7 linked regions of the Homo sapiens genome follow. The protein of the gene in region 5 purifies or fractionates together with the protein of the main gene of each other region. This does not show direct contact. Each region holds a gene or a part of one and is shown on either strand. Other genes may lie near its edges. The genes, in order: FBXW11, LSM14A, ZC3H18, PPP1CB, NUAK1, UBAP2L and INCENP.

Evidence for each region.
Region 1: the proteins of NUAK1 (region 5) and FBXW11 purify together in Homo sapiens (affinity purification with mass spectrometry; 5 studies listed by BioGRID and IntAct, with this or other methods). This does not show direct contact.
Region 2: the proteins of NUAK1 (region 5) and LSM14A purify together in Homo sapiens (affinity purification with mass spectrometry; one large-scale study listed by BioGRID and IntAct). This does not show direct contact.
Region 3: the proteins of NUAK1 (region 5) and ZC3H18 purify together in Homo sapiens (affinity purification with mass spectrometry; one large-scale study listed by BioGRID and IntAct). This does not show direct contact.
Region 4: the proteins of NUAK1 (region 5) and PPP1CB purify together in Homo sapiens (affinity purification with mass spectrometry; 2 studies listed by BioGRID and IntAct, with this or other methods). This does not show direct contact.
Region 6: the proteins of NUAK1 (region 5) and UBAP2L purify together in Homo sapiens (affinity purification with mass spectrometry; one large-scale study listed by BioGRID and IntAct). This does not show direct contact.
Region 7: the proteins of NUAK1 (region 5) and INCENP purify together in Homo sapiens (affinity purification with mass spectrometry, with the first as the bait; one large-scale study listed by BioGRID). This does not show direct contact.

Annotation. Positions count from the first base shown.
Region 1 is NC_000005.10:171,870,639-171,874,138, forward strand, and holds part of FBXW11 (F-box/WD repeat-containing protein 11), read right to left. Parts: intron 2,353-3,500; coding exon 2,234-2,352; intron 221-2,233; coding exon 110-220; intron 1-109.
Region 2 is NC_000019.10:34,179,004-34,182,503, forward strand, and holds part of LSM14A (protein LSM14 homolog A), read left to right. Parts: intron 1-3,500. UniProt on the Homo sapiens protein: Essential for formation of P-bodies, cytoplasmic structures that provide storage sites for translationally inactive mRNAs and protect them from degradation. Acts as a repressor of mRNA translation. May play a role in mitotic spindle assembly.
Region 3 is NC_000016.10:88,625,903-88,629,402, reverse strand, and holds part of ZC3H18 (zinc finger CCCH domain-containing protein 18), read right to left. Parts: intron 1,782-3,500; coding exon 1,621-1,781; intron 1,484-1,620; coding exon 1,284-1,483; intron 646-1,283; coding exon 549-645; intron 1-548.
Region 4 is NC_000002.12:28,758,330-28,761,829, forward strand, and holds part of PPP1CB (serine/threonine-protein phosphatase PP1-beta catalytic subunit), read left to right. Parts: intron 1-3,500. UniProt on the Homo sapiens protein: Protein phosphatase that associates with over 200 regulatory proteins to form highly specific holoenzymes which dephosphorylate hundreds of biological targets.
Region 5 is NC_000012.12:106,132,455-106,135,954, forward strand, and holds part of NUAK1 (NUAK family SNF1-like kinase 1), read right to left. Parts: intron 1-3,500. UniProt on the Homo sapiens protein: Serine/threonine-protein kinase involved in various processes such as cell adhesion, regulation of cell ploidy and senescence, cell proliferation and tumor progression. Phosphorylates ATM, CASP6, LATS1, PPP1R12A and p53/TP53.
Region 6 is NC_000001.11:154,265,955-154,268,650, reverse strand, and holds part of UBAP2L (ubiquitin-associated protein 2-like), read right to left. Parts: intron 2,151-2,696; coding exon 2,083-2,150; intron 1-2,082. UniProt on the Homo sapiens protein: Recruits the ubiquitination machinery to RNA polymerase II for polyubiquitination, removal and degradation, when the transcription-coupled nucleotide excision repair (TC-NER) machinery fails to resolve DNA damage.
Region 7 is NC_000011.10:62,141,011-62,144,510, reverse strand, and holds part of INCENP (inner centromere protein), read right to left. Parts: coding exon 3,467-3,500; intron 3,012-3,466; coding exon 3,000-3,011; intron 1-2,999. UniProt on the Homo sapiens protein: Component of the chromosomal passenger complex (CPC), a complex that acts as a key regulator of mitosis.

The sequences.
Region 1 (3,500 bases), on a different chromosome or scaffold from region 5:
ACAGAAACCTACCATAGGACCTGGTACATACAGAGTTGCTTAATATATAACATTTCTCTTTCTTCTTGATACAGTTATAGCAGTACATCTGAAAATCTGAAAGACATACCCATCATAGGCCCCACTGACAATCCTCTTGTTATCAAACCGGATGCATCGGACCAATTCTTCATGTCCCTCTAGGACTCTTAAACAGGCACCACATTCAATATCCCAGAGCCTTGAATGAAAAACAGACCTCTGTGAAACAAATTCCCACACACGATTCACACTATCCGTAAGTTTTTTATATCTGTTCCATACAGATACAATTTTTCACTATCTTGGAGCTCTTTATTTCTATCTCACTTCCAGTACACACCACACATATAAAGCTGTATGTGTACATTTATACCATCTGTGTGTTTCCAAGCACTAACCTAGGAAGAAGCCTTACTTTTTATTCTATTTCCTTTTATATGATTTGAAACTGTTTTTAATCATGCGTCTGTATTACTATTTAAATAAAATCAACAAACAAGAAACTTCAATTCTATTTAATCCTTAGGCATTCTCTTGATGTCTGAGTTGATAAAAACCATGTAGACAAATGGTGTAGGAAAGACTCTTCTGGGGAGACAGGGATTGTAGGCAGTAAAGGAGAAAGAGCACAGATGAGACAAGGTGGGAAAGGAGATATCACGTACAGCCAGGGGGTTAAGCTTCCGCCCCAGGCACTTCTAGCACAGTGGAGTCCATAAGGACCACTGAGGTTAGAACTGGCGGACCAGCAGGGGAGGTGGCTGTCTCTTGATGAGGCTTGGGGATACCCCTTCCTTGATACTATATGCTGAATACTGGGATTGACGGTTTACAAAGTCAGAGTGGGAGACTTACTAGGTACACGCAGTGTTCTGGTGGAAATATAAACCCATTGACAACACCAAGTCTTTTTCTCTGCATATGATTTATGTAACAATTCTGGAGTTAGAGATCTTTTTTCCTATTATGACTGATTTTCTACAGTATTTGTAGAAAAAAATCATAGCTAGTTAGCATGTACAAAATAAAGTGAGCAAATTAATTCTATAACTTTTTCTTAGCCTCTCTACCAGTAATTCCTATGATACATCCAAAGAATGTATTTTATTACAGCTGCCCTTAGCAAATCTTCTTAGTACCCGTGATGATAGCATCTCTAATCTGTGATCAAAGCCATTCAGTACTGCCACTATGACTCCAAAGTAGTTCCCTTCTATAAGCTGGAGAGTAATACACATTACTATCTTGTAAAACCTTGACAATTCCAATGAGGAAGTTAAGAACTGTTTATTGATGAAACATTAAGCAATACCACAAAGCATGATGAATATAAGAGAATCAAGATTTAAGCTCTAAACTAAATTTATGGTATCTTGAAGCCTAAAGTGATAAAGCAAACTTAAATAGCTTTTTTGTTATTTGCTTGCCTTAAAAAAAAGTTTTAATAATCTTAAACCCAATCTTTATTTTGACCAAACATTAGGCAATTATAAACGCCAAAGTTTAGTCACTTATGTAAAGCTACTAGCATGTGTTTGCTTGCCTGCCTTTAAAAAACAAAAAACTTTTTTTAATAATCTTGAATCCTATCTTTATTTTGACCAAACATTAGTCAATTTGATTATAAACCAAAGTTAAGTTTAGTCACTTATGTAATGCCACTAGAGTGTGTTGAGACAGTGGGGAAATGGCATGGGATAATGAAGTAGATATTGAAGGGATGTTCTTAGTAAGATACAAAATGTCTAAGGTTAGTCAGATTTATTAGAAAGCAGGGAGGCCGAGTGCTGGGAAGGAAAAAGAGAGGTAAATGACCTGGCAGGAACAGATGCAGTCTTGGGAGAGGAAAATAAAGTACACTCCCATGTGTTAGGTAGGGAGGTGGGAGCTCACAGGTGAGGGAAATTGGAGCGAGCTGGGCTGCACTGCAGCACCCTAGCCTGTTCTGAAGTGCTCTGGTATTAAGTGATCCCAGGTGGAGCTGAGGTTAAAAAACTTTGTGTACTGGGGGAATCTTGGAAGAACACCCAGGGCACACACGGTTTTCCCACTTGAGTATACAGAGCCCAAATACATTTCTAAAAGTTACCTAAAGCTTTCTTATCTGAAACATCCCATTTACCCTGAGTTGTTTTGAGCATTAGAACTAGGAGATGAGTCAACAATGTGGCAAAAATCAGCCTGCTCTGTCAGCACACCAACTTCTACCCACCTAATGGTATTATCTGATGATCCACTAACAACCAGGCGATCCCTGTACTGGAGACAGGCAATGCCCCGCTTGTGCCCATTGAGAGTACGAACAAATTCACAGGTGCTCGTGCTCCAGACCTGTATAACAAATTAACAGTATTTTAAAGAATGAACACAGGAAAGTCCTCTCACAATATACCTTTCTTAAAAAGACAGAGCTTCTGATAATGACCCAAATATGTGATTATAAAATACGGTGTCCTCTAACTCAAAGTTGGGAGGCTGGGGGGCAGACTAGACAGCATAAAATTTTCTTGGCTGCTGAGTAATAACACTGGAATGAAACACGGAGGGAAGTGAAGTCTCCAGTCTTTGAGATCTTTACAAAGAGAACATCTCCTGAATGGTTCAAACGCTCATTTACCTGGAGGAAAGAGTTTGGGCCAGATTTTATGTTTTTACACCAGCTGACATTTCAAACCCCATGGAGCTAATGTAATAAAAAAGCTTCCAGCTGGGTACGGTAGCTCACACCTAATCCTAGCACTTTGGGAGGCTGAGACAGGAGAATTGCTTGAGCTAAAGAGTTCGAGACCAGCCTGGGCAAAATAGTGAAACCCCATCTCTACAAAAAATAAAATTAGCTGGGCATGGCAGCATGCACCTGTGGTCCCAGCTACTCAGGGAGCTGAGGTGAAAGGATCATTTGAGCCCAGCAGGTTGAGGCTGCAGTGAGCTGTGTCTGTGCCACTGCACTCCAGCCTGGGTGACAAAGCAAGACTTTGTCTCAAAAAACAAACAAAAAGTCTCACCTTTCATATCATCCTCTTTTCCAGCATATTTTCTGGAACAGCTCCATTTGTTTTGACACATTACTTCTAATTGTATGTATGCAGAATAAATAATCCCCTCTTTTGTGGTATCTGACTTAGATGTTCATAGACAGCTAAACATATTATTAGACAAATAAGGAGACACACAGCAACCAGAGTGCCCTGAATTATCTTACCAGCTGCATTTGTAGCTGAATGGGATAGATAAATAGATCTCCACAAGTAAAAGAATGGCACTGGACCCCTACCTCATACCTTAAACAAAAATTTAACTCAAAATGGATCAAGGACCTACACATAAGCACTGAAACTATACAAGTCTTGATAAATTGAACATCATCAAAATTAAAATCATTTGTGCATCAAAGGACACCATCAAAAAAGTGAAAAGACAACTCACAGAAAGGGAGAAAATATTTGCAAATCATGTATCTGATAAGGGACTTGTGCCCA
Region 2 (3,500 bases), on a different chromosome or scaffold from region 5:
TATAAGTGAGTAGGATGCCTAAATAGGCTAAAATGAATGAAATTCTTATAAAAAATAAATTCTTACATTTAGTTAGCTTACCTGGATAATCATTCAAATGGAAACCAGGTTGCTACTGCACTGGGAAAAGAGACTTTATGAAGAACGATTATATAAGCCACTTGCCTTTAAAATAAGTTGTTCTTAAAATCAAGAGATTGGTGGAAGAATAGAAAAACAAGTAAATTGTTAACAGATTTCTTTAATCATCTGCTAAGTCTGGCTCATTGGCATAATTTATCTACTTCTTGATGTTAGTCACATAGTCATAAACTATTACCTTATTGGAGAGAGTGGAAGAGCTTTGTGTGATGGATAAAATACTTGCGGGGTGCTTTATTTGATTTCTTGCATTACTTGGGGATCTAAATCTAGCAATTCACAAAATTACTATCTAAAATGACAAAGATCTAGTGAAACTTCAAGCCACAGTTTCTTTTTGTTGCCCTATTTAGTGATGTTGCCAGTACTTGGAGCCTTGGAAACAGTTTATTATTGTTACATAGTCCGCAGAAATACTTGGTAATTCTGGGAGTCTGAAGTCAGGTGCCAGAAACTGTTCATTTTCTAGTAGGGGTAAGTAAGGTAAGCCATGATTTTCTAAGTCGGAAGTAAAGAAAACAGCATAAAACTGAAGAAAAAAAATAGTAGAAGGAAGGAAGTAGGAAGAAAAAAGAAATCTTATCTGTGCATGATACATAGCAGGAGTTTTGTATTTAACTCAGTGCCACAGTAATAATAGCAGTAACTACAGATAGTTTAACTTGAATTTAATTATTCCGTGCTAGAAGATGCTTGCTATAGAAACAATTTGTCTTTCTCTCATGATGCTATAAAATAATATATTAATTAGCTGTTTTAAAAACTAGATACCATTGAAGTAAATTTTGTTGTTGTTGTTTTGAGACAAGAGTCTCACTCTGTTGCCCAGGCTGGAGTGCAGTGGCACGATCACAGCCTTGACCTCCCTGGGCTCAGGTAATCCTCCTGCCTCAGCCTCCCAAGTAGCTGGGACCACAGGCACACACCACCACACCCAGCTAATTTTCTGTTTTTTGTAGATACAGGGTTTTGCCATGCTGCCCAGGTCGGTCTCTAACTCCTGGGCTCAAGTGATCTGCCTGCCTTGGCCTCCCAAAGTGCTGGGATTACAGGTGTGAGCCACAGTGTCTGGCTTGAAGTAAGTTTTTTAGTGGACAAAGTGTGAGTTGGTCTGTAAAATAATTTATTCCCAAGGGCCTTATTCTAGTTTTGTAGGGTTTTTTGTTTGTTTGTTTTTTTCTGGAAGAAAATGCGACCCAAAATGCCAGTTGGAATACTTAGCAGCTTTTTGGTCTTGGACAAGTTATTTAACCTTAGCTTTAACTTCTTCATCTTTTCAATAGGGATGGATAATAATGCCCATCTTTCAGAGTCATTCTGATAATTAAATGAGGTGATATAAAAGAAGTAACTAGTTTAATGTTGGTGCTTAATAGAGAATAGCTGTCCCATGTTATTTCCCACCACGATCTCCCTCTCTGTCTAGGTGCTCAGTCTCTCTAGTAGCCCAACTCAGTCAGTCATTCACACCTACTGTAGTCTACTGTCATCTTACTGCCTTTCACTGTCCTCTCATTCCCCTCATAACTTTACTTCCTTCTTTATCCTGCTTCAACTCCATGAGCAACCACGACAGTCAGTACACATTCCCTCAGCCCCCACCCCATTCCCCTCTTGCTGTCTTATACAAGAAATCACAACCCTGATTATATCAACACAGATGTGCTGACCAGCCTCACTCTAAATTTATGTTCGCTAGCCTCCGCAGTCATGGTCACTTCCTAGCAGTCACACTATACTTCCATAATCCATTTCACTTTTCTACATGGCTATTCCATTCATTTTCCTCAAGCCTCCAACACCTCCCCCATATTCACTTTCAGCCCCTTAACCGTGCTTTCTATAGCAGTTAACTGAGAAAAGAACAGCAAACGAAAGATAATTTTGATAAACTTACCCCTCACATACCCAGTTACCTGCATCTGTTCCCCAGACTTCTATGTTTTTTTCTGATCAATATGGATAAACTGTTCTTATTTCTGTCTAAGACCACCCTTCCACTTGTGCAGCATTTGTCCCCTCTTGGTGATTCAAGAACATTGCTCCAGCAGTTCTCTACTCTCCTCAGTTTTTCCTTCCCTAACGTATCTTTCTGTCTGCTTACAGATAGGCAGTTATTTCTTCTACCTTAAGAACAACCAAAAAACCCCACTGTACTTGAACTGAATTTCCTCTTTTCTAATGATTACCCCATTTCTATCCTTCCCTTTATAGCGAAACCCCTTGAAGAAGTTGTCTACACCACTGGTGTTCATTCATTTTTGAGCCCTGTTTACTAAGGTTTTTATTCCTACATATGAAGTTTTCTTATCAAAATTACCAAAGATTTCCATGTTACCAAATCCAGTAGTTAGTTCTTAGTCTCATTCTACTTCACCAGTCAGCATTACGTGGTACAGTTAGTCTGTTCTCTGTGAAGCATTTTCTTAACTTGATCGTATGCCATTTTTTTCCTCATATCTCACTGGTTACCTCTCAATCTCCTTGGCTGATTGAACCTGTAAGCCGCCAAATGTTGGGAGAGCTCCAGGGCTCAGTTATCTCCCCTTTTCTCTCTGTCTGTTAACATTTATTTAATCATCTGCATTCTTTTGATGATCTCATCCATCTAGTTCCTGGTTTCAAATACTACCTGTATATCACTGACTCCTATCTCTAGCCTGAATTTCTCCTCTGAACTCCTGACTTGTATATCCATTGCCTCTTTAACATCTCTACTTGTAGGGAAGTCTGCTAGAATCTCAATTCAGCATGCTCCAAACCTGTTCCTCCATCAGCCTTCCCCATCTAATCAAATGACAGCTCTATTCTAGTTGGTAAGACCAAAACACCTTGGAGCCATCCTTAATTCCTCTCTCTCTGTCTCACCTCATGTGATCCGAACCTATCAGCTCTGCTTTCAAACTAGATGCAGAATTTGACCTCTGACCACCCCTACTACCCTGGTCCATTATCTCTCACTAGTCTATTCAGAGATACTCAGATTCCTGTTTCTTGTTTCCAATATTGACCTCTCAGTTGATTCTTTCTCCTCCTCCCAATTTTACTTGAGTGAATCTTTGTAATTAAAAAATAAAATATATGGGAAATGTAGGTGACAAATTTTCTTAGTGAACCTATGTTTTCTTGTGCTTGACTGGTTGGTTGGCTATGTATTTCCAAATTAAGAGTCTTTTTTCTGTGGAACTTTGAAGTTACTGCTTTTTGTTCTTCTAATATTCTGGGGTTGCTGATGCCAGTCTGACTCTCAGTCACTTTTCTCTCTGGAAGCTTTTATTTAGAATTCTCTATTCCTGGAATTCACAAATGTGATCACACTGGTTTGTTGTTGTTTGTTTGTTTTTTGGTTTGGTTTGATT
Region 3 (3,500 bases), on a different chromosome or scaffold from region 5:
CCAGGTTCAAGCGATTCTCCTGCCTCAGCCTCCCAAGTAGCTGGGATTACAGACGCACGCCACTACGCCCAACTAATTTTTTGTATTTTTAGTAGAAACAGGGTTTCACCATGTTAGCCAGGCTGGTCTCAAACTCCTGACCTCAGATGATCTGCCCACCTTGGCCTCCCAAAGTGCTGGGATTACAGGCATGAGCTACCGCGCCCGGCCTAATTTTTGTATTTTTAGTAGAGACAGGGTTTTACCAGGTTGGCCAGGCCGGTCTGGAACTCCTGACCTCAAGTGATCTGCCGGCCTCAGCCTCCCAAAGTGCTGGGATTATAGGCGTGAGCCACCACGCCCGGTCCTGTTATTTTTAAACAAATATTTAAAACCTTTTCTTCGTTTTAGTTTTCAACACCCTAAATACCGACAGGCATCATCTGCAAGTCAGATGTTCTCTGGACCCTCCTCCTACTTGTTAAGAGCAATGGGGTCTCAGACCCAGCTGCTCCGCATCCCCAGGCTCCCGTCCCTCTGCCCTGCCCCCTAGGGGCTGGGAGGCTCACCTCGGTCTGGGGATGTGTTGGGCCGCTTGGCTGGAGGAGGGCTCTGCCTGTCCTTGTCTGATGGTTCATAGCGCTTCCTGCTTCCTTTATCAGCCGCCTGGGACAAGAGAGAGGCCAGTGAGGACAGCAGGGCCAGGAGCCAGAAGCCGTGTCCTCGCCCCAGAGGACATGGGTTCCTTGCCAGCAACCTGCTCTGCTCCCAAAGGTCCCACCACACACCCATGAGACCCCGTAGCCCTGAGTGAGGCCTCCAGGACCCGGACCAAGGGCACCCCCACTGTGCACTTGGGGCCCTTCACGTTCCAGGGGAAGCACCCTGCAGGCCTTCCTGCTCCCCACGGGGGCCACTCTAGGAGGACCTGGGACCCATGAAGCCAGGCCTCTTGCCCTTCCAGCAGAGGACAGGGATGTGTCCTGCTGAGGACAGAGGACAGGGACGGAGGCTTCCTGTATTGTGTTGAGACTGCATGGCAGGGAATGGCGGCCACAGGCACGAAGAGAACGCCCTCTCTGTTCAGAGAGAGGCCAGCAGCACCCAAACCTCCCCAGATGCTCACACTTCCCAGCCCAGGCCGGAAAGATGGAGTCTCGCTTTGTTACCCAGGCTGTGCTGACACCTGCAAGGCCCCACTCGCCCTCACTCAGGCTCCGTCCCCCAGGAGGAAGCTGTCTCAGGAAGCAGATGGACCCAGGCCTAGACGCTGGGGCAGCCACCAGGAGGGCCCTTGCCCTCACCTTATTCAACAGTGTCAACTTGATCTCCTTGTGGGCCACAAATGTGCCCTGCTGGGGCTGCCCGGGGGGTGCCTGCTGGGGTGTCGAGGGCTGCTGGGAGGACTTCCCCCCTGCTGGAGGTTTTGCAGATTTGGGTGGTTGTGTGGACGAATCCCTTTTCCGCTTTTCCTCTTTAACACCGTCTTCTTTCTTAGATTTTCCTACCAATGATAAATCCGCAGTCATGGGGGTACTGGTGATTTTCCCATGGCCACACCAACAGCCAGGCAAAGTCTGTGCTGATGCCGCCCTCCTCCCCCGGGAGCTGCTCCCCAAAGGTACCAGGGCTCCTGAGTACCTTTCTCCTTCCTGGTCTGGGCTGGGGCCGGGGACCGAGAGCTGGCTGAGGACACGGGGCTAGCCAGGTCTGCGTACATGTCCTCCGAGTCCACGCTGTGTGCAGAGCTGCTGCTCGACGTAGCACTGGACACTGAGGAGACGCTGCTCACGCTCAGGGACCTGGACACACAAGCACATCTCACCACACCCCAGCCAGACTGGAGGGAGGGGCCAGCAGGGGGTGCTCCATGGTCCACTTTTACGCAGTGTCCATTTATGGATCATGTACCCACGGAATGTGTGATTTTGGGGGGACACTGGGCAGTTTCAGGGTTACAAAGTAAGGGACGTCCCCATGGCTAGGCCAGGGCCCCATTTCACTAATCAATGTCAGGTTGCAGCCAGGCACGGCTGCTCACGCCTGTAATCCCAGCACTCTGGGAGACTGAGATGGGCAGATCTCGTCACGAGCAATGGGGTCTGAGACCCAGCTGAACTGATGTCAGGAGTTCGGGACCAGCTTGGCCAACATGGTAAAACCCCATCTCTACTAAAAATACAAAAATTAGCCGGGCGTGGTCGCAGGCGCCTGTAATCCCAGCTACTGGGGAGGCTGAGGCAAAAAAATCGCTTGAACCCGGGAGGTGGAGGTTGCAGTGAGCCGAGACCATGCCATCGCACTCCAGCCTGGGCGACAAGAGTGAAACTCCGTCTCAAAACAAACAAAAAACAAAACGAATGTCAGGTTGCTTTTTGGGAAGGGAAACAGGACTGAGCTGACTCAACAGCGGCAAGGATGGAATTTAAGCAGAGTCCCTGGCTTAGACAAAAGGGAGATAGCCTCAGCCCACAGGGAAATTAAAAACACAAGGAGCAATTCCGCAGTCTCAGGGAATGCCTGAGGAACACACGGCAGACAGACTGGAAACAGCAGGTCTGTAGCTTCACTGGCGTGCACTCAACACGGACACAAAGCACACAGGACTGGCACCTGAGTCTGCCCTGCCCATATGCTGCTCGAGAAAACACCAACCACGTCTTCCAGGTACATTGGGTACCGGAGCAAGGAACGGGGGAATGTAAGAGAACCATTTTTTTTTTTCAAAAGTCAGGTCTTTAAAACATTTCAGACTTATTAAGAAACATTTAGGCCAGGCGCGGTGGCTCATGCCTATAATCCCACGAGTTTGGGAGACCACGGTGGGAGGATCACTTGAGCCCAGGAGTTTGAGACCAGCCTGGGCAACACAGCAAGACCATGTCTCTCCAGAAACAAAACAAACAAAAGAAACAAAGAACTGTGACAAATATATAAACGACCTGCTGCCTGGAAATGAAAGAGTTCTATGCAAGGAATCTAAGGACTGATTTAATACTTTCTTTTAAAACAACTAAATAGCAAAAATCCTTTTTTTTTGTTTTGAGACAGGATCTCTGTTGTCCAGGCTGGAATGCAATGTCGTGATCACAGCTCATTCAACCTTGACCTCCCAAGTAGCTGGGATCATAGGCACACACCACTATACCCAGCTAATTAAAAAAAATTTCTGGGCTGGGTGCAGTGGCTCACACCTGTAATCCCAGCACTTTGGGAAGCCGAGGCGGATGGATCACCTGAGGTCAGGAGTTCAAGATCAGAAACGTGGTAAAACCCAGTCTCTACTAAAAATACAAAATTAGGCTGCGTGCGGCGGCTCACGCATGTAATCCCAGCACTTTGGGAGGCCAAGGTGGGTGGAATGCCTGAGCTCAGGAGTTTGAGACCAACCTGGGCAACATGGTGAAACCCCATCTCTACTAAAATACAGAAAATTAGCTGGGCGTGGCAGTGTGCGCCTGTAGTCTCAGCTACTCAGGGGGCTGAGGTTGAATCCGGGAGGCGGAGGTAGCGAGATCGCG
Region 4 (3,500 bases), on a different chromosome or scaffold from region 5:
ATGTTAAGATTCTTAGAAATACTGACTTAAATTCTGTTATGTATTTCTGAAAGGTTATTCTCGAATGTTGGTGGCATATAGGGAGGCAAGGGGAAGAAATAGTTTGTAAATGTCAGTAGGTTTAGCAGTGGTGTGGTAGATGGGGATTCCCAGTGGAGTCTTCTAGGATTTGTGATTGGATACAGATTGATACCCTTAGGCAGCAGCCACTGCTTCTAGCAGCTTTAAATAGCCATTTCAAGGCTTATTCAAGTATAAATAACCAGTAGCCAGTTTTTTCCTGATTTGATAGAGGAAGTCAGTCCTTGGTCTAGATGGGTACTTGTCATACAGTAGGAAAAAGGGCGGGGGCAGTTGTCCTTTATTCTGCCTCTGCACTATTCACATGTGGAGCACAGTGATTTGTGAGAGTATGTATAACCTTCGTGAACATCACTGGCCTCAGAACCCTCCCTTGCCAAATTTACCTGCATCTGTGCAAAGACAAGTGGAGATATTGATGATATGTGCATATCCCAGAGGGAATAGCGTTTGCTTTTTGATGCATGCCCACCCTTGCATAATTGGGAGGTTTTAACATAGCATATTTCACCATAAAGGAATTTTATTCTAAGAATGTTAATCAGAATATCCCTAAGTAACAGAAGTTCCCATCTGGTCAGTTGCAAGGTGACCAAAACACTTTCTTGGTTTGAGTATAGTCATATGTTCTGTCAAATGATGTTTTGGTCAACAGTGGACTTCATGTAAGGTAGTTAGTGGTCCTGTAAGATTAGAATGGAACTGAGAAATTCCTGTCACTTAGTGACATCATAGGCATAATGTCATAGTGCAATGCATTACTCTTGTTTGTGGTAGTGCTGGTGTAAACCTATTGCACTGCCAGTTGTGTAAAAGTACAACAGGCCACGCGTGGTGGCTCATGCCTGTAGTCCCAGCACTTTGGGAGGCCAAGGCAGGTGGACCACTTGAGGTCAGGAGTTCGAGACCAGCCTGGCCAACATGGTGAAACCCCATCTCTACTAAAAATACAAAAATTAGCTGGGCTTGGTGGCATGCATATGCCTGTAATCCCAGTTACTCAGGAGGCTGAGGCAGGAGAATCACTTGAACCTGGGAGGTGGAGGTTGCAGTGAGCAAAGATTGCACCACTGCTCTCCAGCCTGGGCGAAAGAGTGAGACTGCATCTCCAAAAAAAAAAAAAAAAAAAAAAAAAAGTATAACACAATTATATAGAGTACATAATACTTGATAATGGTAATAAACAGCTATGTTATATATTTACCTTTTTTTTTTCTTTTTTTTGAGACAGAGTTTCGCTCTTGTTGCCCAGGCTGGAGTGCAGTGACGCGATCTCAGTTCACCACAACCTCTGCCTCTCAGGTTCAAGTGATTCTCCTGCCTCAGCCTCCTGAGTAGCTGGGATTATAGGCGTGCACCACCACACCTGGCTAATTTTTTGTATTTTTAGTAGAGACGGGGTTTCACCGTGTTAGCCAGGATGGTATTGATCTCCCGACCTCAGGTGATCCGCCTGCCTCGGCCTCCCAAAGTGTTGGGATTACAGGCTTGAGTCACTACGCAGGGCCCTGGAATATATTCTTATTTTAAAAAACTAGTTAAAACCGACTCAGGCATGTCCTTCAGGTGGCATTCCAGGAAAAAAAGCTTCGTTATCCTGGGAGGTGATGGCTCCATGCATGTTACTGCCCCTGAAGACCTTCCAGTGAAGATGTGGAGGCGGAATATAGTGTTACTGATGATCCTGACTCTGTAGGCCTAGGCTAATGTGTGTGTATATGGCTTAGTTTTTAACAAAAGTTTAAAAAGTGAAAAATATTTTTAAAAATAGGAAAAGGCTTAATAGGATAAGGATATAAAGAAAATATTGTACAGCTGTATGATATGCTTTTGTTTTAAGCTAATCGTTACTAGAAAATTCAAAATGTTTAAAAATTTTTTTAAGTTTCTAAAGTAAAAAATGTTAAGTAAGCAAAGGTTAATTTATTCTTGAAGAAAGAAAAATATTTTTATCTTTATTACTGTATATACATTGTGCCTTTTCTGTGTTTAGATATGTTTAGATATACAAGCACATTGTGTTACAGTAGCCTGCAGTATTCAGTACAGTAACATACTGTGCATCATGCTTTGTAGCCTAAGAGCAATAGACTATACCATCTAGGTTTGTGTAAGTCCACTCTGTGATGTTTGCACAACAACAAAATCACCTCACTGTGCATCTCTCAGGAAGTTTCCCTTTGGTAAATGATGCATAACTGGACTTGTCTGACACCATTTTAACCTTCCCCCTAGTCCTACCTCTCATTCTCAAGATTTGGAGAAATCAAAATCTAAGTTTTCATAATAAAAGGTTAGGTATATTGGGTGTTACATAGCTTTCACTAATGTCATATCTAGCAGTTGTAATCACGTATTTTAAAACTTTAAATAGTAAATTAAGAAGGAATCTTTATAGGTACTTGTATGTTTCCTCAATGTGGTTTGAATTGAGCGTTTTATTTAAATTACTATCAAATACTTGAGCCAAACTAGCGAGACAAAAAGACCAGACCTTTTCTTTTTTCCGAGATGGAGTCTCACACTGTTGTCCAGGCTGGAGTGCAGTGGTGCAGTCTCGGCTCACTGCAGCCTCCGCCTCCTGGGTTCTAGCGATTCTCCTGCCTCAGCCTCCTGAGTAGCTGGGATTACAGGCGCCTGCCACCATGCCCAGCTAATTTTCTGTATTTTTAGTAGTAGAGATGGGATTTCACTAAATCTCGAACACCTGACCTTGTGATTTGCCCACCTTGGCCTCCCAAATTGCTGGGATTACTGGGGTGAGCCACCGCGCCCGGCCGAGACCAGACTTCTGAGGGGGAGAAACTTGCAAACCTGTCAGTGAGAAAGAGTGAGGTCTGATTTTAGATGACAGAAAGGAATAGCTTTTGTGAATTTCGGACTCCCAACTACTAGAATTATGTGAATCCTGAATGATAATCAGATGTTTACTCAGTTAAGTGTTTACTCAAATATTAATAAGTATTGATACATTGGGATGCCATCTTATATAATGATTAACGACACAGATTCTGGGTGTATTTCAGCCCCAGTTTCTTCTGCATATATGATAGTAAGTGCCTTCAAACAATTCTTGACACATTAAAGGTCAGAAAATGTTAGCCGTCATTATTGCTTAGTACAAACCTGAGCTAGGAAATACTAACAGAGAGCTCTTTGTGCCACTGAGTCCTGGAACTTCCCCATACTAATTTTGAGAAGGCTTTCTTGTAAGTATGTGACAGATACTGTTTCCTCCACTTTCTGTTTATTGCATATAACCACTATTCTTGTATGTAAGTACGTATAACAGTTTCTTTACTATTCCCATTATTCAGCGTTTATAATCTGGTTTGACATATCAGTGTTGGTGCTGAGAGGGAAAGGTATTTCTAGGTAGGATAAAATGGTGAAAAGTGATTTAACACTGTTGTATGCTT
Region 5 (3,500 bases):
GACAAGATACCTTGACTCAAACCCTTATCTCCTGCTGCTTCCCAGGAGGAAGCAAGATCAACACACACTGGCATGGTGTGGGGGCATTTTTGTCTGCAGGCAGGGAAGTGAACCAGCTTACCCCTCAAAGCCCCCTAGGGACTCCAGGGTCTGAGGCTGCTTGGGAAACAAAGGACTCTGTATGTGTCCAGGTGAAGAGCTCCCTGACCTGATTCATTACAACAAACTCCTCGAGGTCCAACAAACAGACCAACAAACAGATGGCTCACCAGAAGCAGGCACATCTCTTCTCCCTAACTTGGCTCTGATTCTTATCTTCCCAACCTCAACTCTTGCAAAAACTCCCTGCTCCAAGCCAGCACACCAAACTGACGGGCTCAACACCCCACTGTGATCAGAACCCAGCTCAGACCCCTCTAGAGGAAGAGTTAAGGTCAAGGTCTCTGCATTCACATTGCCTGGGTCCAAACCTGGCTCTGCTGCTGCCTGTGACCTTGAGCAAGCTAGTTAACCTCTCTGTGAGTCAGGTTCTTCATCTAGAAAATGGGATGATAGCAGAATTGTTATAAGGATTAAATCAGTTAACATGCACCTAGCATGTTATAAGCACTCAAGAAGTATTAGTTGCTATTATTTGCATTAGCATCAATTATTATTATTACCCCCATCTTACCTTACCAATCCTGCCCTCCCATTGTGTCCCAGCACAAACCCTGCATTCCAAGCCACCTGGAATATTCACCTTCCCCCAAACACAAGTGAATGAATGCCTTGGAATGCCCCACATTCCAATCCTCTGAAACCCAAATCAAGGGTCATTTTCAACAGCACTTGTCCTCCCATTAGCTGGAGAACACTTTCTAATCCCACAGTATACCCTGGCCCCTCCTCTAGATACCCTTCCGGAAGGGTGGGCGATCACCCCATGGCTGCTCTTCTGGCACCATTAGCAAAGAACCACACCCAAATCCAGAGGTCACCAGCTGTGCAACATTAAGGAAGGTTCTCAATTCCTCTAGCAGCATTGGGTTTCCAAACAAACTCCATCCAAACAAACAAACACCATCCAGCTGTCTGACCCTTGGCAAGTTACCTAACCTCCCTATGTGTCATTTTCCCCATCTGTAAAATGGGTCTCACTATTTTACACCTCACAGGGTTGCTGTGAAAGTTAAGTGAGGGAAAATGTCTCTAAAGCACTTAGCACAGTGGGATGCACCACAAGCTCTCAAAAATATCAGCTGGTAGTAAATAATGGTAGCAGTAGAAATATGATTCTGTCCAGGATCAAACTCACTTTCATGAGCTAAGCTTCAATGAACTGTTGTCCAACTTGAAAATCACCTGAAACAATCCTCTATGGAAGAGTTACTCATGCCTAGTAACTACTTCTGCCTTCTCTTTCACCAGGCTGGAAGCTCCCTGGGTCTTACTCATTTCTATGTCTCAGCATTTAACATGGTGAGTAGCACATGGCAGATGGCAATAAATCTTCATCGAACTGAACAGAATTAGTTTGCAAGTACATTTCACCTTTGCTACTAGATTATAAGTTCTTTAAGAGTGAGGCCCATGTCTTTCTCTAGTAAAGATTTATTAAATGAGTGATGGAAAAATACCAAACCAAGAATCGGGTTTCTAAGATCCAGCTCCGTCATTCAAGACCTGTGCAACCTCAACAAAGTCACTTAACACTTCTGCGCCTTACTGGTCCCACCTCGAAGATGACAAGTTTGAACCACATGTTTGCCATGGTCCCTTACACTCTAAAACTGTATTTGGGCCTTAGCTGCAACATGGCACTTCTGCCACCGTGCATGTGACGTCAACACACCTCCTGGCTTGGCAGGCCAGTTTGCTAATTTGCCTCCCTGATTTGCAGTTTTCCAGCAGGAGGCTATGAATAGCTTTGGGTGCTTAAAACACCCATTTTTGGTCAAAACACTTGGCTTGCTAGGTGAGGATGCCCCATCACCCAAGCTAATGCTCTAGTGGCCAGGGGCACCAGGGCAGACTGTGGGGGAGGGGCACACATTGCCCACCAGTCCTGCCACTCCCATCCCAGACTCCCCCCCAGGGACCCTGCCTCCAGCTCACACCACACCACCTACTGCTCACTAGAGATAACCTGGTACAGTGAGGAAGTTGAACTTGGCCCCTTGACATCGAGGTGATCACAGGACATAAAATTGTGTGGCTTTGGTTTTGGGATTTTTGGCAACGCTTTGTGTGGCCTGTAGGTCCAGGGAGCTTAGCTCAAAGAAAATGCATGCCGAATTATGACACAGAGGCTCACCCAGTAGGCCTGCCCAAAACTGTATCAAAACCAAAGTTGTGCAATAAACAAGGCCCAAATTCAAGACTTGAGAAATGTGTTCAGATCCTATCTGAATCTGGCTAATTATCTCATCTTCCTATGGACACACCTCCCTAATTAATTTGGTATTTATTTTATTACTCTGAAAAGTTGATTATTTCTTCTATCTCTCTCTGCATGATACAATGCATTGTCTCTCTGATGGTCTTAAAATCTAATGAAATCCTAAAATGAGATGAGAAAAAAAATCTGCTAAAAGGAGGAACTAAATTGATTAATGTCCCCTTTTGAGGTTTTATATAGATCACTGTATTCAGTTCTCACAAGTCTATGAAGTTGGTACTCTTAGTAGCTCATTTTACCGATGAAGAAGCTGAGGTTTCAAAAAGTCACATAGCTTGCCAAAAGACACAAAGCTAGTAGGGGATAGATCAAGGATTTGAATGTAAGCCAGGGCTCTTTGCCTTTCTGCAAGAGTGCCTCATTTTTGAGCTTGTTCATCTCTGGAACAAGCCACTCTGAGTCCTGGTCTCACGGACATGCTTTAGCAGAGGCTGCAAGACTGCAGGAGAGTGCCTGGACGACACACAGGGTCGCACCAGCTGACTCCAAGCATCTCATTCTGCACTTCTCTTCAGAACTGCCTTTCGCGGCACATAGAAAATGATGCTGTGTTGTGTTTTGTTTTATTCAGAAGGTCCTTCCAGGTATGCAATTAAAAACCATCACATCCTCATTTTTTAGAAACTTCTCTCCTCTCTGAGAAGAACCCCTGCTTTCAACAGGGATGTTGATTTCACAGCATTTCATACAACCCCATACTCGGCACCTGTCTTGGGCCACTCACATTAGTAAAACACGTTAGAACCACTGCTCCTCTTGAGAGATGCTGTAAAAGGCACTGGTGCAAATGAAAATAAAACATCACTTCAAAATTCTACCCAAAGATCAAAAGGCTAAATTAAGATAGTGCCCTTTCAGTTCTCCTCAACTGCACCTTCAAAGCATGTTGTGAATGTTTAGCACATCGCTGGTACCAGAAGAAAACTCCAAGTTCATATTTTAGATGAAAATGTCTTACTGCTCTTAACAGGTTCTGAGTCACCAGGCACTGTATGGGCAAGAACAACTCGTTGACCAATTTTTTGTTTGTTTGGTGTTATTTTCTGTTCAGCCAGTCACA
Region 6 (2,696 bases), on a different chromosome or scaffold from region 5:
CAGAAGGCACAGTACACTTGAAGTCACATATTCAGGTCTCAGTCTCAGCTCTGCTCTTATTTAAGAACTGTGTGAACCTGGGCATACTACTCAATCTCTTAGCCTCAGTTTCCTCAGATATAAAACAGGGATGCTACAAACCTGTTGTAAAGACCAAATAGGCTGGGCATGGTGGCTCACATCTGTAATCCCAGCACTTTGGGAGGCCAAGATGGGTGGATCACACAAGGTCAGGAGTTTAAGACCAGTCTGGCCAATATGGTGAAACCCCGTCTCTACTAAAAATACAAAAATTAGCCGGGCATGGTGGCGGGCGCCTGTAATCCAGCTACTTGGGAGTCTGAGGCAGGAGAATCACTTGAACCTGGGAGGTGGAGGTTGCAGTGAGTCAAGACTGTGCCACTGCACTCCAGCCTGGGAGACAGAGGGAGACTCCATCTCAAGAAAAAAAAGAAAAAAAAAGGCTGGGCGCAGTGGCCCATGCCTGTAATCCCAGCATTTTGGGAGGCCAATGCAGGCGGATCACCTGAGGTCAGGAGTTTGAGACCAGCCTGACAAACATGAAGAAACCCCGTCTCTACTAAAAACACAAAATTACCCGGGCATGGTGGCACATGCCTGTAATCCCAGCTACTTGGGAGGCTGAGGCAGGAGAATCGCTTGAACCCGAGAGGCGGAGGTTATGGTGAGCCCAGATCGCACCATTACACTCCAGCCTGGGCAACAAGAATGAAACTCCGTCTCAAAAAAAAAAAAAAAAAAAAAAAAAAGACCAAATAAGAGGATGGAATGTGGAAGCACTTTGTAAAACTGAATGTCATATGTGAACATCATGAAATCCGAACTTAGAACTCCAGGCTGGGCATGATGGCTCACATCTGTAATCCCAGCACTTTTGGGAGGCTAAGGCGGGTGGATTGCTTGAGCCCAGGAGTTCGAGACGAGCCTGGGCAACATGGCAAAACCCTGTATCTACCAAAAAACAAAAATACAAAATACAAAACAAACAAAAAACAAAAATACAAAAATTAGGCAGGCCTGGTGGTGTACACCTATAGCCCCAGCTACTCAGAAGGCTGAGATTCCACCACTGCACTCCAGCCTGGGTGACTTCTTGAGACTGTCTCCAAAAAAAAAAAAAAAGGCAAACCAATAGTGTCCCTACCCCTTCCAATATTCCTTACAAAAATAGTAACTCCGCTGGGTGCAGTGGCTCACGCCTGTAATCTAGCACTTTGGGAGGCCAAGGTGGGCAGATCATGATGTCAGGAGTTCGAGACCAGCCTAGCCAAGATGGTGAAACCCCGTCTCTACTAAAAAATACAAAAATTAGCAGGCGCGGTGGTGGGCACCTGTAATCCCAGCTACTCAGGAGGCTGAGGCAGGAGAACCGCTTAAACCCAGGAGGCAGAGTTTGCAGTGAGCCGAGATCACACCACTGCACTCTAGCCTGGGTGACAAGGCAAGACTCCATCTCAAAAAAAAAAAAAAAAAAAAAACTCGTTGGATATTTCAAAAGAAATAAACACATACTGAGATATTTGAAGTGCTGAAGGTCTTGTGCATGAAGTGCCCCCCCAGACCCCCAGTGCTTTATAGCAAACTTTAAGTATTTATGGTGATGGGGGATAAAAGCAACATAACAAACCTGTGGATCACTCAAATGCTTCATTAGTTACTAGGTCGTCTCCTTTCCCACTCCCACTGTTATAGATTTACTCAAAGAATGGAATGAACTAGTTTCCTGTCACTCTCATACTTATTCTCTTGAAAAGTTATGAAAAAGGTTGGGAGTAGGTAGGAAAAGGGGCCAGGAGAGTTGCACAGTAAATTACATGACACGATAAACAATTTGCCACGCTTTACCTTCCTATTACGTTTCTCGTTTTTTTTCTCAGAGGGCTAAATTTTAACTTCTTAGAGGAAGTGAAGTCTAGAGAAGACCTTTCATTTAGAAAAAGTAGGATGGGTTTCCTGCCACCTCTCCTAGGGTTCTTCTTGTCCACTGTTATTTCTACCATTGCAACTCCACCTCCTCTATGTCTATCTCTTTTCCACTTTTATCCAGAGCCAGGCACCTACCTGGGTTTTGGAGTACACAGAACCCGAGATATCTGGCACGCCCGTGTTACTGGAGGTGACTGAAACACCTGGGGGAGGAGGAAACAGACAGGAGGATTAGCTCAGCTAGCTACCTGGCCCTTATTCCTGAGATGAGGTGATATCTGTAGCCTTTCTAGCTATACCAATGCAAGGGAATTTTGGTCGGTTTTCCAGCTTCAAGTTAGTCCTGAGAGGTAAGAGTTCATGAAACAAAAGCTCCCTAAGGGTTCTTTGGCCCTTCCCAGGTACGTGTTGAGTATACGTGAGAGAGAGTGAGGTAAGTTGTTTTTTGGTGGGCAAGGGGATATGACCAAACCTCACTAGCATACACTGTTTTCAAAACACTTCTGTGCCAAAGTCTAGCAGGAATATAATAAACTTTTAATTTTAATGTCCATTTCAAATCAATCCACCCAAATGCCACTCAGTTTTATTCCTGGAGACTGGGGCAGTCTGGCCCTCTCTCTTCCTGAAGTGACATTTCTGGGCTCAAAATCCATGCCTCCACTGCATAAGTACTAGAGGAGCAGTCCACTTTAATCCCCAAGGGCACTCTCATTCTCAGAGCCTCAGCTCAATTAGTCCAGCTTCTT
Region 7 (3,500 bases), on a different chromosome or scaffold from region 5:
TATACATATATTCTATTGTGTATATCAACTATTTCATAATAGTTGAAAAAAATAAAAGGAAATATTGACAAATGCTAACAGTCTAGTGAGATGGATTAGGGATGGTATTAATTTTCTTTTATTTTCCAAACTTCCTGTGACATGGCTATGCACTTTTTTTTCTTTTTTTTTTTTTGTGTGGAGACAGAGTCTGCTCTGTCACCCAGGCTGGAGTGCAATGGCGCGATCTCGGCTCACTGCACCCTCCACCTCCCAGGTTCAAGCAATTCTCGTGCCTCAGCCTCGCGAGTAGCTGGAGCTACAGGCATGTGCCACCACACCCAGCTAATTTTTGTATTTCTAGTAGAGGTGGGGTTTCACTATGTTGGCCAGGCTGGTGCTGAACTCCTGACCTCAAGGGATCCGCCTGCCTTGGCCTTCCAAAGTGCTAGGATTACAGGTGTGAGCTACCACACCCAGCTGGCTATGTTCATTTTTAAGGCAACTTTAAAAAAGTACTAGTTGGCTGAAAAGCTGATTGATGCTGGCACCCCCTCCTGGGCAGACACAGAAAGTCCCAGGGGCACAGCCACAGCAATGGGCAGCCAGCAGGGATGGGCAGGGGCTCTAAGCCCTCCCTGGCCAAGGACAAGGCTAGTGCTTTCCCCTTGAACAGTCTGGGGCTGGGTGGAGGCTGGGACCCAGAGGGAAGCCCCACACCCATCACCCCAACCTGGCTCCCAGTAGACTCCCACCTTTAGGCACAGTGTCCAATAGCTTCCCCCTCTTCCTGTACTGGTTACTATCGATTTCTCCTTGGCTTCTGAGCCTAACTGGAGGAGCACTCTCGCCTAGAAATCTGGCTCCAAGGTAATACCATCCTCCCAAAGACGGAGAGAAGGGGTCCCGGGAACGGGTAAGATGGAGTGGACATACTCCACCTCTCTCTCCCACTGAATGCAGCTACAAAACCTGGACAGAATGCAAGGAGCGGCTACTTGAGGCCTCTGAAAACTAAAGAGGAGCAGGCAGATAGGGAAGAAGACCAGACTTGGAAGCACCAGCCAACCAGCAGTGAGTTCTCCATTGTTTTTCTCCAGCCTAACTCAACACAGCCTGGAACTCCAAAGGAGTCACTGGGGCACGGACAGAAAGAATTCCAGGACAAGCCCTCTAGTCCTGACTCAAGCAGCAGAAAGGGAGTATCTAATGCTCAGAGAAGGCAGAAATCCCATTTTTGTTTGTTCTCTTTTCTTCTTTGCCTTGTGCCCCAGCCCACAAGCAGTCCTATGGCAACCAGGGGCAGCAGCAGTTGAAGAAAAGCTGCCAAGTCAAAATTCGAGGGAGGAGCTGTGATCCCAAAAGTGTGGGCCAAACCCTGTGTGTTGCTCTTCTGTCTGTCCCCCTGCCAGGCGACCCTGGACAGAGAAAGCTGCCAAGTCAAAACTCAGAGGAGGAGCTGTGATCCCAAAAGTGTGGCCAAATCCTATGTGTTGTTCTTTCCCTGTCCCCCTGGCAGGTGGCCCTGGACACAGTCGTAGAAGCACACAAAGCAGAACAAGGTAACTGAAGCCCCAGCTTCCTGGCTGGAGGACAGAAAAGGGAGCCCCAGAGGAGATCGGGAAAATGATGCTGCAGGTTATTGACGAACGCCCAGGCTCAGCTCTAAGCTGCAGATGCTAGGATCTGATCCTAATTACCACACCGAAGGCTGAGAACTAAACTAACAGACCACCTGCCAAGTCCCAGGCTGACTGCTGACTGGCACACACCCGGGAAAAGTCCAAACAGCACTGCCATCTTCAAAATCGGGACTAACATTGGAACCAGAGTCCACAGAAGGCAGATGGGAACCTGCAGCCTAAACCTAACCAGGTCAATTGCTACTAAATTGCAATGCTGAGAAAATATCAACATTGTCCATAGATTTAAACAAGACCCAGAGACTCATAGCAGAATGTTCAGGATGCAGTCCAAAATGACTCCGTAGCCCCCTGGTCTCCTAACTATGGACTGTCCCCACCCACTAGATGCTTTGTGCAGGGACCTGGGATCCCCAAAGCAGGAAAGGGGACCACTTCCTGGTCTTCTCTATCACCCTGTGAGACCTGCAGGGCTCTAATCGGCACAGGTGGTAAGGCCACTGGAAGGTATACTGTCAGTCACCCTCTCCAACAAGAGGGGAACAGGCCTCCATGCGGAGAAGCCAGCTCAGGGCCCACCTGGCCAGCTGCTGGGAAGCCCCTCTCACCTGCCGAGGCCCTCAACTGGAGGCAGAAGCCCTCCCGGCTGTCACAGGTGTCCCTGTGTGGCTGCAGAGGACCCTTCAGAAGGCTTGCAGGAACTAAAGGAATGAGGTGTCTGTGGCCTTGGCAAATGGCACAGGGAGCTGGGGCTGCAGGCTAAGCATGTCCCCATCTGAGGGTCCTTGCTCAGGGCCTGCCTGGCTCGGCTCAGCTCTGAGGTGTCTGAGAAGAGAACAGCTTCTGCGACTTGTTTCTAGACGCTACCACCCACTGTTCTACTGTCACCCAGCACAGCAAGACCCAGCACTTCCACCTCAGTTCAGACCCACACTTGCGCTCCCCCATCACCCCACTGCCTCAAGGCTACTGCTCAGGTCTGTGAACCAATAAATCTCAGTAGCTCTGGGGACCACAGACAACCTGTCTGTTCTCTTCAAAGACCCACAGACCCTGACGGGGCCTGGTGCAGGGGAGGAGGGAGGGAAGGTGGCTGTGGAGAACACATCAAGCTGTAGCCCTGGTGAAAAGCCACACCCCCTTGCTTCCTCCTAAGAGCAGAGTCAAGGGCAGGGAGGGCAGAGAAGGACGCTGGGGCCCAGAACTGCTGGGCGCCTCCAGCCAGTGCACCCCTCACCGTCCCACTCTCTTCCTAAGGCTCCCCTCCCGCTTACAATGTTAGTGCATCTACAGGTGCTGTCAGCTACGCAGGGAAGGGGCTACAGCGGGTGAGTGCTAGGTGGGGCGAGGTTACCGACAGGAAAAGGCTTTACTTACGACGAAGCTGCACTGTGGAGGAGACAAGGGAAAAGGCAAGAGTTAATGCCAGGCCGGGGAGCATCCTGCCGGGCAGGCCACATGCCCAGCTGTGCCAGCAAGCCTGCGTGGGGCCTGCCCTCCTGCCAGCAGCACCCCCACCGCCTCTCCTGTCACCCAACCCTCACCCCAGTGGTGGAGGTGTCCACAAGTACCTCTCACCTTAACTACACAGATCCCCAGGGCTCACATTGAGCCGGCCAAGCCTCCAGGCTGTAGTCCAGAGCCCACAAGGTCAAGTGCAGGACAGTGCCCTCAGAGGTCAAGACAGCCGGTGGCCACAGAGGCTTCAACCGGCCCCTAACAGTGCCAGGCCACACTTGCCTCCGCCCAGGCTCACACTACTCCCAGTATCTTACAGGACAGACTGGACCTTCAGCCACACTGCCCAGCTCCCACAAAGCCCGGCCTGGGCACAGGCCCCTCACCTTGGGGTCCATGCGCAGGGGAGTGTTGCGCTTA